Regions from separate parts of the Homo sapiens genome. Here region 2 is linked to region 1. The links come from fine-mapping of genetic effects on gene expression. Tissue or cell type: whole blood. Region 1 holds a variant in brackets; the other region holds the start of a gene. All regions are shown on one strand. Distances are between the middles of the regions.

Region 1 (8,102 bases):
TCCTGAATTGCCGTTGTTGCCAATTTCTGTGGTGTAAATACTTCCACGGTAGCTGACTTCCAGCTACCCTTTCAAAAAAGTTACTGAACATGGAGTTAGGAAGAGACATGTTCAGTTGCCTCTCACCCAGCTGCATACATGATCTCCAGCACACCCCTGCTGAGAGCTTCCTGATTTGTGTTTCTAAAAGAGTCAAAGGGAAACATTTACATTTCTTTCTTTTTTGTTTTGTTTTGTTTTGTTCGAGACAGGGTCTCACTCTGTTGCCAGGCTGGAGTGCCGTGGTGCAATCACGGCTCACTGCAGCCTTGGCTTCGTGGGCTCAAGTGATTCTCCCACTTCAGTCCCTGCCCCCAGCTCCACCTCCCCCACCAAAGGCTCATGCCCTGGTAATTTTTTTTTATTCTTTGGTAGAGACAGGGTCTCCCTATGTTGCCCAGGCTGGTCCCAAACTCCTGGCCTCAAGCAATCCTCCCGCCTCCAATTCCCAAAGTGCTGGGGTTACAGGCGCGAGCCACTGCGTCAGGCCACATCTCTTTACAATTTACCGAGCCCAGTTGTTTATTTAAAAATAAAAACATTTATTTAAAAATTACGGGCACAGTGGCTCATGCCTGTAATCCCAGCACTTTGGGAGGTCAAAGTGGGCGGGTCACCTGAAGTCAGGAGTTTGAGACCAGCCTGGCCAACATGGTGAAACCTCATCTCTATAAAAATACAAAAATTAGCCAGGCATGGTGGCACGCGCCTGTAATCCCAGCTACCCGGGTGGCTGAGGTAGGGGAATCGCTGGAACCCGGGAGGCAGAGGCTGCAGTGAGCCGAAATTGCACTATTGCACTCCGGCCTGGGCGACAGAGAAAGACTCCGTCTTAAAATATATATATATATATATAAAATTAAGCCAAAATCCAAAAGATGGAATGACTGTGTGTTTGTCTCCTAAAGAACCCTAAGTCTGAGAGAGGAGGCCCCGTGGCAAGCCTCGTAAATATCAGGCAGTAACTGCCGGGTGTCTACAGAGTCACTGTGGCTCTAAGAGGAGGGAACCCTCCATGGAAAGCTGAGGTGGCGAGGGGTTCACAGAGCCCCGCACACGCATGTGCACACCCCAGCCCTCCAAGACACACACACACCTGCACATGAGCACATACTCATATGCACACACATATGCAACCCTTTGACACAAGAAAGACCCTTTGCCAAGCCCGAGTGGGATCTGACAGAGATTGGAGGATGGGCACCTTTTTGTAATTCACATGCCCAGAGGTGGCACCAAGGCCACCTGTGCTGCAGGTGCCCCTGAGTGATGCCAATGGCCATGAGAAGGTGGCCTGGGCTCTGAGTAAGCCTGGGGGCCTGGGAATATCTAGATGAGGATGGAAAGTTTGAAGCAGACTTTCACACACCATCCCCACTCATTACTCCCAGGGGCCATCTCTCCTTCCCCTTCAGCACCAAAACGCAATGGGATCAAAAATAAACATGAAACTCCAAGTCTCCCATGTCCTGACTTCCAGGGTGCCTGAGGCCATAGGTTCTAGAGTCCAATGTCAACCTTTCTTGCTTCAACTGCCTCATACTTCAAGACTCAGCTCAAATGACGTCCCCTCCTTGAAGACTTCCCCCACTCTCAGGCAAAGTGACTGCCCCCCGACCCGGCCCCACTCTGAGTCTACAACTCCCTGAGCAATGTCCAGTGTCCCCCATTACATCGCTTGGTCAATATCTGCTCTCCTGGCCACTCCCGCAGCCAGACCACAAGCTCCGCTAAGACAGAGTCTGCATGGAATTTATCTCTGTACCTCATCCCCTAGCACCAGGCCTTGCACTTAACAGGACCTTAAGAAATGACTGTGAGTGAATGAATGGGTTACAAATAGTCATGAAAACCTCAGCAACTTATAACGTCAGCCCACAGCCCAAAGGAAGCACGCCCTCCCTCCCCAGCCCACCACAAATTACTGCCATTCTCAAAAGGACAACCCTGAAAGACCACAGTAAACCAGACATGCCGCCTCCTAAGCTAGATCTCAAAGCGGGAGGAGAGCTGGCTTTCAGGATTTCTCCACCTGCAAGGCTGCAGGGCAGAGCTTTCCCTCATCAGAAGGAAGGGGAAATGGGAGGGACAAAGGGACTCAGGGTGGGGCACAGATAGAGACTCAGACTTTTCAAGGGAACTGAGTTCGAGGATAGAGACACAAGTGGCAGCCAGGGAAGCCAAGTCTCCTAGAAACTTCACACCAGGCTCTAGGGATGGGTTTCCCCACCATCCGGGCTGGGGGGCAGAGTTGGGGATGTGCCCCAAGCATGGGTGCAGCCAGGGATGCCAGCTGTCCTCTGAAAATACAGTCCTTCCAGCGGAGTGGGGGAGGCTGAGTGGTGGCAGAAAGGGGGATGAGGGTGGGGGGTGGAACTATATCTCTAATTGAAACTATTTGCTCACTTCAACTGCCAGCTTGTACTTGTTCGAGTGTGGGTTTGGTAATATTTTTATTTTTTTAATAAAAGAATCCTTACGCCCCGCCCCCCCCCCCCAACCCCCCAAGCCTGGGTTATTTGTTTTGGATTGTTTCACCAACATCTGGAGCTTGCCCAAGACAATGACTTCCATCTCCATGACCAACAGATCCTTTCTGGAACCAAGACGCAGGCTTCCCCAGAGCACCATTTCTGGCAGTTTAAGGTGTTCTGTTTTATCTCTGCTTCCAGGCATCAAAGATTCAGAAATACTCAGGTCCAGACTTGGCAAACACTGCTGCCCAAACAAGAAATGTTTTTGTTTTTTGTCTTTTTTTTTTGGCGGGGGGGTTGTTTTTGTTTTGTTTTGTTTTTGTTTTTGAGACAGGGTCTTGCTCTGTCGCCCAGGCTGGAGTGCAGTGGCACAATCTCAGCTCACTGCAGCCTCCACCTCCCGGGTTCAAGCAATTCTCCTGCCTCAGCCTCCCGAGGAGCTGGGATTACAGGTGCCTGCCACCACACCTGGCTGATTTCTGTATTTTTAGTACAGATGGGGTTTCACCATCTTGGCCAGGCTGGTCTCAAACTCCTGGCCTCAAACGATCCACCCGCCTCGGCCTCTCAAAGTGCTGGGATTACAGGCGTAGCCACCATGCCTGGCCCCAAACAAGTAATGTTAATGGTTCAAGTGAGAGGTTTGCATGTCCCTTTGTGTTTCAATGCCAGATGCCCATGGGAGAGTGCTGGCTTGGCCAGAAGAAGTTAGGAGATGACAGGTCGATCCACAAACTCCCACCTGGAATGGGTGGTTACCGTATAAAAAAATCTAAGAGGTTGGGTTGGGAAAAAGTCTTCATGCATTCTTTTGTTCCTTGGCTCATGTGATTATTCATTCAATAATCACGAGTGGAGCCCCAGCAGGGGACCCTGCCCCACGGGGGAGAAGTAGGGGGGTCCCTCAGCATTGAAGCAAAGCAGAAAAAGGCAGAGAAAGAAGAGGCCAGAAATGACTCAGGGAGCAGAGTAGTGGGAAAAACAGAAGTGAGAAGGGAAAAGAGGGAAGGATGGGCCCCCAGATGGATTAAAAACTTCCAACGAAGGGCACTTTAAAGGATCCTTTATCAGAAAAGGCAAAATTGGCCAGATCCTCAGCTTCTCCCTGCACCCACTTCCTCACGTGGCTGCCCCTAGATCCCTTCTGTAGCCTGCTCTGGGACCCACCCCTCCCTTACCTGCAGCCTGGCAGGAAGGTACACACAGCTCAGGCCCTGACATATATCTGGACTCAAGTCTGCCTCGGAAAGGACAGGAAAGTTCCGGTAAAGGAGGAGGACCAGCATGTTGGGGCCGTCCAAGGCCATTCGGGGCCAGCCAAGGGGCAGGCTACATTCTGGAGCTCTTTGTAAGAAAATCCTCACTAACTGATCCCACTAATTCAGAATCCCTGTCAGTTTCGATGTTGGCAATGCTAAAGTTGCTTTTATACTAACCATGAAATAAAGAGTTTCTTAAGCAAATGAACAGAGGAAATAATATTGACTTCCGGCGGTCTCCCCAGCCACATAGCGGATACACTGTCCTGTGTGTTTTGAGTGCCTCTGCAAACAGATGCTGCTAATTGCACATGACTTTTCTTTTCACCAAAGATGCTTTGCAGACTCTGCTGAAAAGCCTGCGGAAGAGTTTATACGAGGAAGTACTGGTAAGAACTCTTGTGGTTTTCAGCCTCTTCTACCCTCTCCCCCAGGAGTGAGGCTGTGA[G/A]GAGTCCTCCCCATTGCACCTCCCATCCCCTTGCCTAGCAGGGGTGGGGAGGAAAGTGTTTAGAACCTGGGGGAGGAGAGTTTTCCCCAGACAGGGTTCAGTGGCTGGGGATTCCTAAATAGTGAGGAATCAAACTCCCCTCCTCACACTGCCCCAGGCAGGGAGCAGTCAAACCTGGGCACAAGGACAGTGACGCCACCCATTCTGTATGATCAGGTGGGCTTGGTCAATAGGATTATCCATGGTGATCATAGGGTCTGCAGACCAGATGGCTCTTCCTGAACTTCTGTTTCCTTTAAGCCATGATCATTTGGGGTTTACTATTACCTGCAGCTCAACCTAATCCAAACAAATTCCCTGCTTGCCGGATTGAATGTGAGACCCAAAGTCATCTGACCCCTTAGCCACATAAAAGCCATTTCTCCCCAGGAGCAGAGGCTGTGGCCCATTTTAAACCCCAATGAGGGCCATGGATACTGTCCCAGAAAAACGCATGGATGTGAACATGTTCCACTTGCATTTCAATACTCCACATACAGGCCTTACACGGTGGCTCACATCTGTAATCCAGTGCTTTGGGAGGCCAAAGCCAGAGCATGGCTTGAGCGTAAGAATTCAATACCACCCTATTTTATTATTTGTCTTTACAAATAATAAATAAATAAATAAATAAATAAATAAATAAATAAATAAGCTGGGCATGGTGGTACACATCTATAGTCTCAGCTACTCAGGAGGCTGAGGCAGGAGGATCGCTTAAGCCCAGAAAGTTGAGGTTGCAGTGAGCTATGATTGTGCTACTGCACTTCGGCCTGAGCGACAGAGCAAGACCCTGTCTATAAAAAAAAAAAAAAAAAAAAGGCCAGGTGCAACGGCTCACGCCTGTAATCCCGGCACTTTGGGAGGCCAAGGTGGGCGGATCACCTGAGGTCAGAGTTCAGGACCAGCCTGGCCAACATGGTGAAACCCCGTCTCTGCTAAAAAATACAAAAATTAGTCAGGCGTGGTGGCGGGCACCTATAATCACAGCTACTCCGGAGGCTGAGGCAGGAGAATTGCTTGAACCCAGGAGGTGGAGGTTGCAGTGAGCCGAGATTGCGCCATTGCACTCCAGCCTGGGCAACAAGAGTGAAACTCCATCTCAAAAAAAAAAAAAAAAAAAAAAAAAATCCGTATACAATTTTAAGATTCCCAGACTTCCTGAATTTTATGCTTGTTCCCGTAAGCTAAAAACCTCTGACAAAAAGGGATGCAATTTCCAAAACACTCAACTCCCAAACTCAAGTGGTGTCAGACCCCTGTTCTCACCTAGAGTCACAATAGAGCAGAGGACAAGGTCTATGCTATGTCCATTCCCTTCAGCGGTGCCCTAACCCCAGCAACTAGGTCCACTTTCTTGTAGTTACTCATTTTCTAAAAATGTTAGTGCCTGCCCACTGGGCTCACTGCTGGGGGCCATAGAGAGCCCCCAAGGAATTCACACCTAGCTGGGGAGGACAATAAGTTCTATGTTAAGAGTATCAGCATTTGTTCTCGCCACCACTAGAAAGAAAAGAAGAAGAAGAAAAAAGTATCAGCGAAGTGCCGGGGGGAAGAAGAGGAAGCCGTGAATTCCACTGCATGGCGGAGTGGTTACTTGCACAGCATCTGACCTGGGCCGCTGGAGAGGGAGAATGGTGCCAAGCAGTAAAAAAGATTGGAGTAAGAGGCGTTTTATACAAGGGGACTGTGTCATACCGATGTGGACAGCCCTTAGCATGTTCAGGGAACCCAGGGGACACAGACCAGAGCTCCCCAGGCAGAGGGCGGTGAGCGGAGGGAGGGTTTGGAAATGCGCCTGCGTGGTTGACTGCACCCAGCTGTGCCCGGCCTTGAATGCCACACTGAGGATTTTGACCTGACCTGTGGGCAGCAAGGAGTCAGAGAGTGATGTGATCGGATCTGATGGTGACAAGGAGGAACAGGAGACAGAGGGAAGGAGGACGAGGCTGGGAGCTGCTGGCAGTGTCTGGGGGTCAGGTGCTGGCTTTCACCTGGCAGGTAGACCCAACACCTCAGCACACAGCACCTGGAGTCAGACTCCAACCGCTCCCACCACCGAGATTTCCTCCTGATCCTGCAGAGCAGACATAGCCTCCCTGCTCTTTCAGGTGGGTTGTGCTTCCCCGCCCCCTTCACCCCTCATCTCTCTGGTTTGCTCTAAAGGGGCTTCTCATTCCAGAATCACAGAGGAGCCTCAGAGGCAGATGCTACCGGGGATCTGACCCCCTCTAATTCACCCTCATTCCACAGCTTGATCAGGCACACGTTTCCTGAGACTCTGCCTGGAAGAAGCCCTTGAGGGAGGTGCAGATGAAACAGACACATCCCTGCCCCGACAGTGGGCTCAGTAATGTACATGGGATGCAGGATAGGGAAGGAAATAAGGCACAGACACCAAGAACAGTCCCAAGAAGCAGCCTGGGGAGTTTGCACACCCCACTCTGTGGGTGTTTGGGGGAGCTGAGGAGGAAAAGATTCCCCTGGGTGGAATGGGAGTGGGTCAGTCTAAGAAAGGCTCAGTGGTGGACTCCAGGATTTAAATGGAGAAGATCTGGACTTGAATTCTTCCTTTCATAGCTGTGTGACCAAGGATAAGTCACTCTACCTCTCTGAACATTTGTGTCCTCATTTAGAAAGGGACAAATGTACAAACTCACAATGTTTGGGGAAGATCCAAGACACTGTCCAGCTTAGTGCATGGGAAAGAGGATTATAATCAGTGTGGTAGGCAGACGCTAGCATGGCCCCCAGAGAGCCTCTACGGTGGCTGCCTGGTATCCACACCCAGGTGCAATCCAGTCCCTGAGCGTAGACTGGATCTGTGACTTGGTTCTAGCCAGCGGAATGTGGCAAAAAAGATAGGATGTTACATCTAAAATTAAGCTATAAAAAGACCCTGGTTTGCGTCTTCCTCGCCCTCTGCTTTTGTCTCGCTTGCCTGCTCTGATGGAAGCCAGCTGCCATATCATGGGGAAGTTTACCAGGCAAGGAGCCAAAGAAGGCCTCCTTGGGGAACTGAATCCTGAATTCTGAATCCTGAATCCTGCCAAACCACATGAAAGCTCTGAAGCCGGTCCCAACCCTCCCCACCTGCCACCCCATCACGGGGGTAACTGTGACCCTGGCTAACACTTTTTTTCTTTTTTTTGAGACAGAGTTTCACTCTTTCACCCAGTGAAATCGTGAGTGAGTGGTGTGAGGAGTGAGGTGGTGCGATCTCAGCTCACTGCAAGCTCCGCCCCTCGGGTTCAAGCGATTCTCCTGCCTCAGCCTCCCAAGTAGCTGGGATTATAGGTACCCATCACCACACCCAGCTAACTTTTGTATTTTTAGTAAGGATGGGGTTTCGACATATTGGCCAGGCTGGTCTCAAACTCCTGACCTCAGGAGATCCCCTGCCTTGGCCTCCCAAAGAACTGAGATTATGGGCGTGAGCCACCGTGCCTGGCCGCTGGCTAACACTTCAGTCGCAGCCTGTGAAAGACCTTGAATGAGAGGTCCTGGCTGAATTGTGCTTTGCTTCCTGATCCATAAAAACTCTGAGATAATATGTTGCAGTTTTAAGCCACTAAATTCTGGAGCAATTTGTTATACAGCTGTAGCTAACTAATGCAACCAGGTGATACGGAGATGATTTAACAACTGGCTCAACACAGGCGTTTACCAACCAGTCAGAGCAGATGCTGCCTGCAGCCATGGAGCCAGGTCCTGGAGCCCAGGCTGTAATACTTGATAGAGGACTGGGAGCGCAGGGGGCTAAGGGGAGGGCAGGAGGGGTCGTGGGAGGTACGAGGGGGCTCAAATCAGCAGCAATTTGCCAACAAGAATGCAAGTATTTCA
Region 2 (8,102 bases), 55 kb after region 1:
CCTCTAGCCCCAAATGCTGCCCCACGATGATGAAACTCTTTCTCTGCTGCCCCCTCGGTGTTGGTGTGTCAACTTGCTGCACCTTGGGCAACACACCAGTTAGGGTCACAGGACCAGCTTTCAGAGGGGCCAGGGAAGGCTCCAAACCCTAAACTGAAATCCTGCCTCCAAGTTACAAAGCCCCTAACCATACCCTCTCCCTTTCCTCTGGCAGGTAGGGACCCACTGAGGACCCTCACCTGGGGAGAGGGAAGGAGTCAAAGGAAGTGCAGGGAGGGACCACCAGGTAGCAGAAGGGAAGAGGGAGGGAGGGAAGGGGAGGGGAGGGGAAGGGAGGGACAGCAAGAAGAGTTCAGCTCTCTATGTGTGTCCCTTGAGGGGAGAGTCTGGGATCTGTGCCACCTCTGATATACTCACTCAGTCACTCACTCATTCATTCAATACACTTTTATTGAGTCGCAGGCACTGTGCTGGGTGCTGGGGGGACACAAGCCCTGTACCCAGGAAGAGTCTAGTTTTCTTCATGGAGACATACAAAATGAATCATTTGGTAAGGGCTATGAAGAAAATCAGACAGAGGAAAGGGTTGGGGTTGTTGCTACTCTACACAGAGCCATGAGGTGGGGCTCTCTGAGGAGGGTCCCCTTGAGCTGATTAAGACCTGAATGAGAAGAAGCCAGTTAGTTATCTGTCGATCGGAGGGGACGGCAGCTGGAGTGGGTTAAGGGGTGAATCTGGGGAGAGCTAGAGAAGATGGTGGGATGAGGGAGGGGCTGCCTGACCTCCATAAGTTCGCATTTTAGTCTCAGGTTGTTGGAGCCCTAGAGACAATCTGGTCCAACCTCCTTCCCTCCTTTTTTTAAAAAAAGATGGGACCTCGTTATGCTGCCCTCACTATGTGGCATGATCATAGCTCACTGCAGCCTCCAGTTCCTGGGCTCAAACGATCCTCCTGCCTCAGCCTTCCGAGTACCTGGGACTACAGGCGCACACCGCCATGCCCAGCTAATTTTTTATTTTAATTTTAATTTTTTTTTTTGACAGAGTCTTACTCTGTTGCCCAGGCTGGAGTGCAGTGGTGCGATCTCAGCTCACTATAACCTCTGCCTCTCGGGTTCAAGCTATTCTCCTGCCTCAGCTTCCTGAGTAACTGAGATTACAGGCATGCACCACCACGCCTGGCTAATTTTTACTAATATACTAATATTAATAATATTAATAACAATACTAAATATACTAATTTTTGTATATTTAGTAGAGACGGGGTTTCACCATGTTAGCCAGGCTGGTCTCAAACTCCTGACCTCAGGTGATCCGCCGGCCTCGGCCTCCCAGAGTGCTGGGATTACAGGCATGAGCCACCCTGCCTGGCCTAAATCATTTATAGACATGGGGTCTCACTATTTTGCCCAGGCTGGTCTCAAACTCCTGGTCTAAAGCTATCCTCCCACCTCAGCCTCCCAAAGTGTTAGGATCACAAGCATGAGCCACCGTGACTGGTGCAAGCCCCCATTTTATAGACGGGGAAACCTTCCTCAGAGAAAGGAGGAAGCTGTCAGGGTCACCAGTAGTTGGTATTGAGCCTGGCCTCCTGCAGGACTCCCAGGCCAGGATGCCAACTCTCGCTGCCTCTTCTTTATCTGTCATATGCACCTCTGGTTCCATCTGACCAGACTGTCAGTTCCCTGGGCCCCTGCTCTGCACCCCAAGGCCATTTTCCTGTCTGTCATCCTGGTCTCCCCTGCTGTCTGACTCTGTCTTTGGGCCACTCATCTCTCTGCTGCTGCTGTTCTAATGATAGATGAGGTTTCAAGGCTCTACCAAACAAGCCTGTCCATCAGGAGCGAGGGGAGATCTCAGCTACTTCCCAAGGCCCCCCACCAGCCCCACAAACCCAGAGCCTTGGGGAAGGATGCTAGCATCTCTTCAGGTCCTGCTCCCAGCTGCCCTTCCACTGGTCACAACAACTCCGCCATCAATCAGGTCAGGCTGCCCCTCCTTAGCAACTCTCCCCCAGAACGTCCTTCTCCTACATCTGGCCTCCCCAGACACCCGCTTCCTCCTCATAGGTCCTCCTGCCTGTGAAATCCCACCTGGCCTGTGAAAAGGGCACCGGACTGGGAGTCAACAGCTGCCGCCTCTGGCTTCTTACAGATTCCTTAAGTCTAACCTCTATCCCTCCTGCTGCAGAAAAAGTGCATTTCTCCTGGCTCAATCTCTGTCAAAGCCAAGAAGACAGGATAGCCTCTACTTAGAGAAGTGATTCAAGTCTCTGCCTGCCCCACTCTTCCTGGTCTCCTCAACCGTCTACTACCCCAACCCTACTCTGAAGGGGCCGCCCTCAGCCAGGCCCGGGTCTGGCCACTATCTCCCAGCCCATCCTTGTTACCTCCCAATTCCCCCTTCCCCAGCCCTCTCCGTGGTTCACACAATCCAGCCAAAGGTTCAGATCCTCCCCTCATAAACTCTGTTACACCCAGAGTTCAGAAGATCACACCAGGTTGAGGATTCAAAGGAGCCCAGAAATTATTCATAACATATCCAACTCTCTCCTGTTTACCTTGATTTTTTTAAAGTATCAGTTACCCATAAAGACCCTAACAAATATGAAAAGGAAAGGCAATTATAAAAGATCCTTCATTATTCCACGCACAAGAGTCAAAGATTTTGCCAACAGCCTCACTTTATAAATGCAAAAATAGGTCCAGAGAGAGAAAGTAACTTGTCTAAAGTCACACAGCAAGTGAGATGGCGGGACTAGAAGCCACGTCTCTGGCCACCCTCTGTGTGGTCTCCCTGAAAATTGGTGGTTCTCACCAGCAGCTTCTCGGTTCGTCAGCTCCACTGCCCTCTGCCCATACTTCCCACTGTCAGCCTCCTTCCCCTCCCACCCCCAACATACTCTTCTTCTCAATAGGGACCCAGGTCTGTCTCAGCTACATGCTGGGACCATTAAAGTCAAGAACATTGCCACTGACACTGTGCCTGGTGCCAGCACACTCCTGAGACACAGCAGGTCAACCACAGCACTCACCTCAACAGCGCCTCCCTCACCCCACCTGAGGGGCACCCATGCCAATGATGCACAGGTATCTATCTTCTTAATCATCTCTGCTGAGGGGCCAGGCTGCAAATTACCCATCTCCCCAACCCCAGAGAAAGTCTAGGTGCTTAGGGGAGAACAGAGACTATGAAAATTATACCATGAGGGATTCCAGGTAGATCTCAGAAAGGACTTCCAGGTGGGAGAGATGAGTTTGGAGAACTGGTAGGGGGGAAGAGGAGTGTGCAGAATGGGACGCCTCCCTCCACCCCCTACCCCAGTGCCCCATCTAGAGCCAGAGTAGCTGAAAGCCAAAGGCTGCCAGGGCAAATGGGAGCAGGTGTGAGGAGGGGGACTCTTGAGGCTGGGGGTGCAGAAGCAGCAAGTTGCTTCTTCCTGGGCCCACTGCCTCTCTACTGACACCAAATAGGCAAGGGAAGGTGACCGAATGGCTGCTGCCTTCCCAGGCAGAGACGCTGTGTCCCCACCATCCCCCTGGCTGCTCCCACCTATCCCTAGCCTGGATCAGCTTTGGGGTCGGGGGTGTGGCAGAGAAGAGGAAAAGAAGGCATGGCTGGGGCAGGGGCCTCCCCAGGCTCCCATCTCATCAGAATTCAGCCTTGCCTGGGGTGATCAGGGGTCCTGATGACTCTCCCGCTGTCCCCTTTCAGAGCCCATGGCCACATAGAGCCCCCTCTCCTAAGGTCCCTCCAGTATCCTTCCAGGAGAGAAGGAGAGGTCCGGGCATCGGTGTCTCCACCGTCACTCACACACCCTATGTGTTTGGGAAAGTGGGGTCCCTATCCACCTGCCCACAGCCCACAGCTCTCCTGGCCTCCTGCGGACAATGCCCCCCTCGCGGACATCGCCAGGCCGTCCACACCTGCCCATGCCCACACCTGACTGCCCGTCCCTCCCCGCCCCCGGCCCACCCGGGCCGGCTCCCGCCAGTCCTACCTGCTCCGGGCTGGGGGCTCAGCGCCCGGGCAGCCTCCCTGAGCACCAGCACCAGGAGCCAGAGCTCGCCTCGCATGGTGGGTGCCCGGACCTGCCCCCGGCCTGCTTGCTGCCCCGGTCCTGACGAGGGAGGGGGCCCTGGCTCAGGCTGCGGCCGCGCGGTCCCCGGGGCTGGCGGAGGGGCGGGCGGCGAGGAGACGGCGGAGCGCGGGGCCGGGCGAGCCGGCAGGAGCGGCGAGAGCGCGAGCGGAGCTGGAGGCTGCGGCCTCCGGGAGCAGGCGGGGAGCTGGGGGGGCCGCTGGGTCGGTGGGGGTGGGGGGGAGCTGGGGCAGGGGGCGGGGCGGGGGGCGCGGCGTCGTTGGGGGCTCTCCCGGCGCCTGCCCTCAGCCCTAACGGAGCGCTCCCCTAGAGCTCTGCAGCCGCTCCCAAGGCAAGGGGTGCAGAGTAGGGGACAGGGCGGGAGCCCCTCGGGCTGAGAGAACCCCTAGAAGCATCAGCCGCCCCGCGCTCCTCACTGAGCTCCTGGCTCCCTTTCCCTCCTCCGTTCCGCCGGGAAAGCTGCAGAGAGAAGGCCCGAGGACTGGACCCCTGGAAGGGACAGGCGCCCCATCCCTGGGTCACGGGCCCCTGACTGTTCCCCGCCCCCAGCTCCTCCAAGCTCTGCGACTTCCTGAGCTGTTCTTCGGAATTCTGTGCGTCTCTGATGCTTTGTCCTCCAGCCCCCACCCCCAGAAATCTCCCCCTGCAGCAAAGACCCCCAGCTTTTCTCCCCAAGAGGGGCCTGAATCCCACCCCCCTTCCATGACTCCACCTTATCCCTCCACCCCCCATTTCCAGCACCGATTTGCCCCCCAAGCCTAGCAGACGTGAGGGTGGAGGGGGCCTGGCTACCCCTTACTCTGCAACAGTCTGGACCCCTCCCCACGAGTAGGTAACCCAGGCCTCCTGCCTCTCTGGGGCCTCCAGGCCTACTCAGGGCCAGACCCAATCAATCTTCAGAGCCAGCCCCAGACGAGGAAATGGCTCACCCCACCTGTCACCACCTTCTGACAGGCTCTGGGGATAGATAATCTTTTTATTTTTTCTTCCAGGACAGAATAAAAATACCCGCAATGTAGGATATTTAATAGACGGCAAGGAATCAGGTCAGGACACGAAGATGCCTCTTCCCTCCCCTGACCTACTTCGTTCTTGTGACGGCAAGGAGCTGGGGCGCTGGAGAGTGGGAGACGGGGTGAGGGGGCATCCTGGCTTCTAGTGGGCTGGGGCCTAGGGACTAGAAAACCGCGGAGAGGAAGGGTGCGAACGCTGAGCGCCATTGGAGAAATTTTCCAGGAGGAGGGATATGGGCGGGGACAGGAGAAGGTACACTGTGGGCTGGAAGAGACGGATTCCGTGGCACTGAGGTTAAAAAAAAAAAAAAGAAAAGAAAAGAAAAAAAAACACCTAAGAAAGGAAACAACTAAAGGCTCTCTAATCTCTTAGAACGCCGGTTCCTCCTTCCGCCGGGCCCAGAGTCCCAGAGACTACCTCCTCCAGCCCTAAACCCAATGTCCCCTTACCGTGGAACAAGGCAAGGCCGGTCTGTAAATTCTTCTTGATGTCTAATTTAAATCCCAACTTGGCGGACTCTCAAACAGAATCAGATAGGCAGCTACCTCCAGCTGCAGCTACTTGCTGCCCTCAAGTGGCCACGTGACGAGCCACAACCCTCTTGTCCTGCGGGTTTCCTCTTTCCCCAGCCTGCCCACCCCCTGTCTCCGACCTCCTGCCTTCCTCGAGGTCAAGGTGAGAAGTCTCGGGACGGATTCCAGCTCCAGCCCCGGCGTCTTTGCACATTCCTCCATCTGGGGTACCTCGTGGTCTGTCTTACAAGAAGAGCTCAGGCTGAAACATAAACTTGTAAATAGTAGAAGCAAATGTGTAAATTTTAACGTAAGCCTCTAGAACTTGAGATCGTAATCACCTGCAGGGTGTGTGTGTGTGTGTGTGTGTGTGTGTGTGTGTGTGTGTGTGTGTATTTTGTTTGTTTTTTGAGACAGGTTCTCGCACGTTGCCTAGGCTGGAGTGCAGTGCTGCGATCATAGCTCACTGCAGCTTCCAACTCCTGGACTCAAGCGATGGGGAGCGTATATGAAAACACAGATTTCTGGACTCCACCCTCAAGTTTCTAATTCATTAGGTCTGGGATGAGGCCCGAGCGTACCCAGGTAATGCTGCTGGTCCCAGGACCACATTTTGAGAGCCACTGCTGTTGAATCCCCAGTTCCTTTCAGTCCCTCACTGCTCCTCGTCTGCCAGTAGGAGTAAAAGCAAACAGCTTAGGAAAAATCGACACCCAGGACAAAAACAGTATCTCGAAAAGGCCAAAGAGGGGGCACCCGGATTTGAACCGGGGACCTCTTGATCTGCAGTCAAATGCTCTACCACTGAGCTATACCCCCTCTGCCGGCAAACCGACCGCACGTAGTCGTTTAGTGGTATTGCTGCGCAGGCGCTGTGTGGCGTTCCCGAAGGGAAGTGGAAGTGGGGTAAGACGTTTACAAGAGATGGAAAAAATACAACTCCCAGAAGAATTACTCACTTGGAAGCAGGGGTTGTTCCCTGAAGCTCTGAGCTGAAGATCCCCACTGGCAGTATAAGAAAATATATTCCTGGGGTGTGGAAGGAGAAGTCTCTCGAAATATTTCACTTCGGGGGCGTCCCACTCTCCTGCCCTGCAGAAGACCCCTTGCCACGTCTCGGAGCTTCTTTCTCCCTCCCACATGCTCACGCGGCTTCTCCCGACCTGTCTTCCCCAGCCCAGCCCTTAGAAACTCAGCCTCCTTCCCGCCAAGAAAGAGCCAGGCTGACCTGGGGGTGCGCTCGCCTCCGCCCTGCCATTGCGAGGTTGAGCCACCCGTACCGTGTTCCAAGGGTCAGCCCGGAGCTCCTCGCCCTCACTCGCATTGCATTCTACCCTGGGTACACACACAGGCTGAGCCACTGGCAGGGGCCAGGACTCCATCCTCACTCGCCTGCGAAAGCAAAAAGGGTGGCAGGGCTCGAGACTCCCTCCCATTCCATCTGTGCGGGAACTCTTTAGAGGACCTCCGGAGACCAACAAAACGAGGTAACTCCGGAGCACAGAGGGGGCACCCGGATTTGAACCGGGGACCTCTTGATCTGCAGTCAAATGCTCTACCACTGAGCTATACCCCCGCCACGCCACTACGTTGTCATTAGAGTTAATTTCTATGGAATAGGGGTGTGGTCTTCATTTTCCCTTAAAGTTTTAATCTGAGGGTTGCGTCGGGATACCTACTGAAAAAAACACAAAATACAATGGGAATGGCTAGAACTCCTGAGTTCTTCCTTCATAGCCACGCTTTCGGAAAACCAACTAGATTAAGGAATCTTGGGCCGAGAGCGGTGGCTCACGCCTGTAATCCCAGCACTTTGGGAGGCCGAGGCGGGTGGATCACAAGGTCAGGACATCGAGACCTCCTGGCTAACACAGTGAAACCCCGTCTCTACTAAAAATACAAAAATTAGCCGGGTGTGGTGGCGGGCGCCTGTAGTCCCAGCTACTCGGGAGGCTGAGGCAGGAGAATGGCGTGAACCCTGGAGGCGGAGCTTGCAGTGAGCCGAGATCGCGCCACTGCACTCCAGCCTGGGCAACAGAGCGAGACTCTGTCTCAAAAAAAAAGGAATATTGGGTCCTCTATATCCGTGCCTAGACTCTCCCCCAAATGTCCACTGACTGGCTTGAGAAAAGGACTGTCCCCAGGACCGCCCCAGGTCCAGGGATGTACAGATGAACAGACTGGATCTCCATCTTGTCTCCTGGGCTTTTCCAACCCCAGGGTCGCTCCTCCCCTTCTCTCAAACCAAAAGCCAGTTTGAGGAACAGACAGAGGAGAAGGCTGAAATAAGAGGTAAGCATTTTTCAATAGCATTTACTACAGCCTTATAAAAATCCTAATACAGTATTTTTTTTAAAATCCTGGCCGGGCGCGGTGGCTCGCGCCTGTAATCCCAGCACTTTGGGAGGCCGAGGCGGGCGGATCACGAGGTCAGGAGATCGAGACCATCCTGGCCAACATGGTGAAACCCCATCTCT

Evidence for each region. PIP is the estimated chance that this variant, and not a neighbour inherited with it, causes the effect.
Region 2: PLXDC1 starts here. The variant in region 1 is fine-mapped to the expression of PLXDC1 in whole blood (GTEx, PIP above 0.99).

What each region holds. Positions count from the first base shown.
Region 1 is chr17:39,092,843-39,100,944 of GRCh38, forward strand. All of the region lies in intron 7 of PLXDC1 (plexin domain containing 1), which reads right to left. Among named protein-coding and RNA genes, the nearest start is that of PLXDC1, 55 kb to the right of the region's middle. RefSeq lists enhancers at 162-231, 6,105-6,706. The variant G/A (reference allele first, on the strand shown) is at 4,221.
Region 2 is chr17:39,147,362-39,155,463 of GRCh38, forward strand. PLXDC1 (plexin domain containing 1) reads right to left here and starts at 4,276. Exons shown (of 14, transcript NM_020405.5): 1 at 4,001-4,276. The coding sequence starts at 4,076. It overlaps TRC-GCA2-3 (tRNA-Cys (anticodon GCA) 2-3), which reads right to left and starts at 6,444; the gene lies at 6,373-6,444. TRC-GCA2-4 (tRNA-Cys (anticodon GCA) 2-4) reads right to left here and starts at 7,201; the gene lies at 7,130-7,201. RefSeq lists enhancers at 5,780-5,929, 6,302-6,808, 6,809-7,313 and a silencer at 7,190-7,259.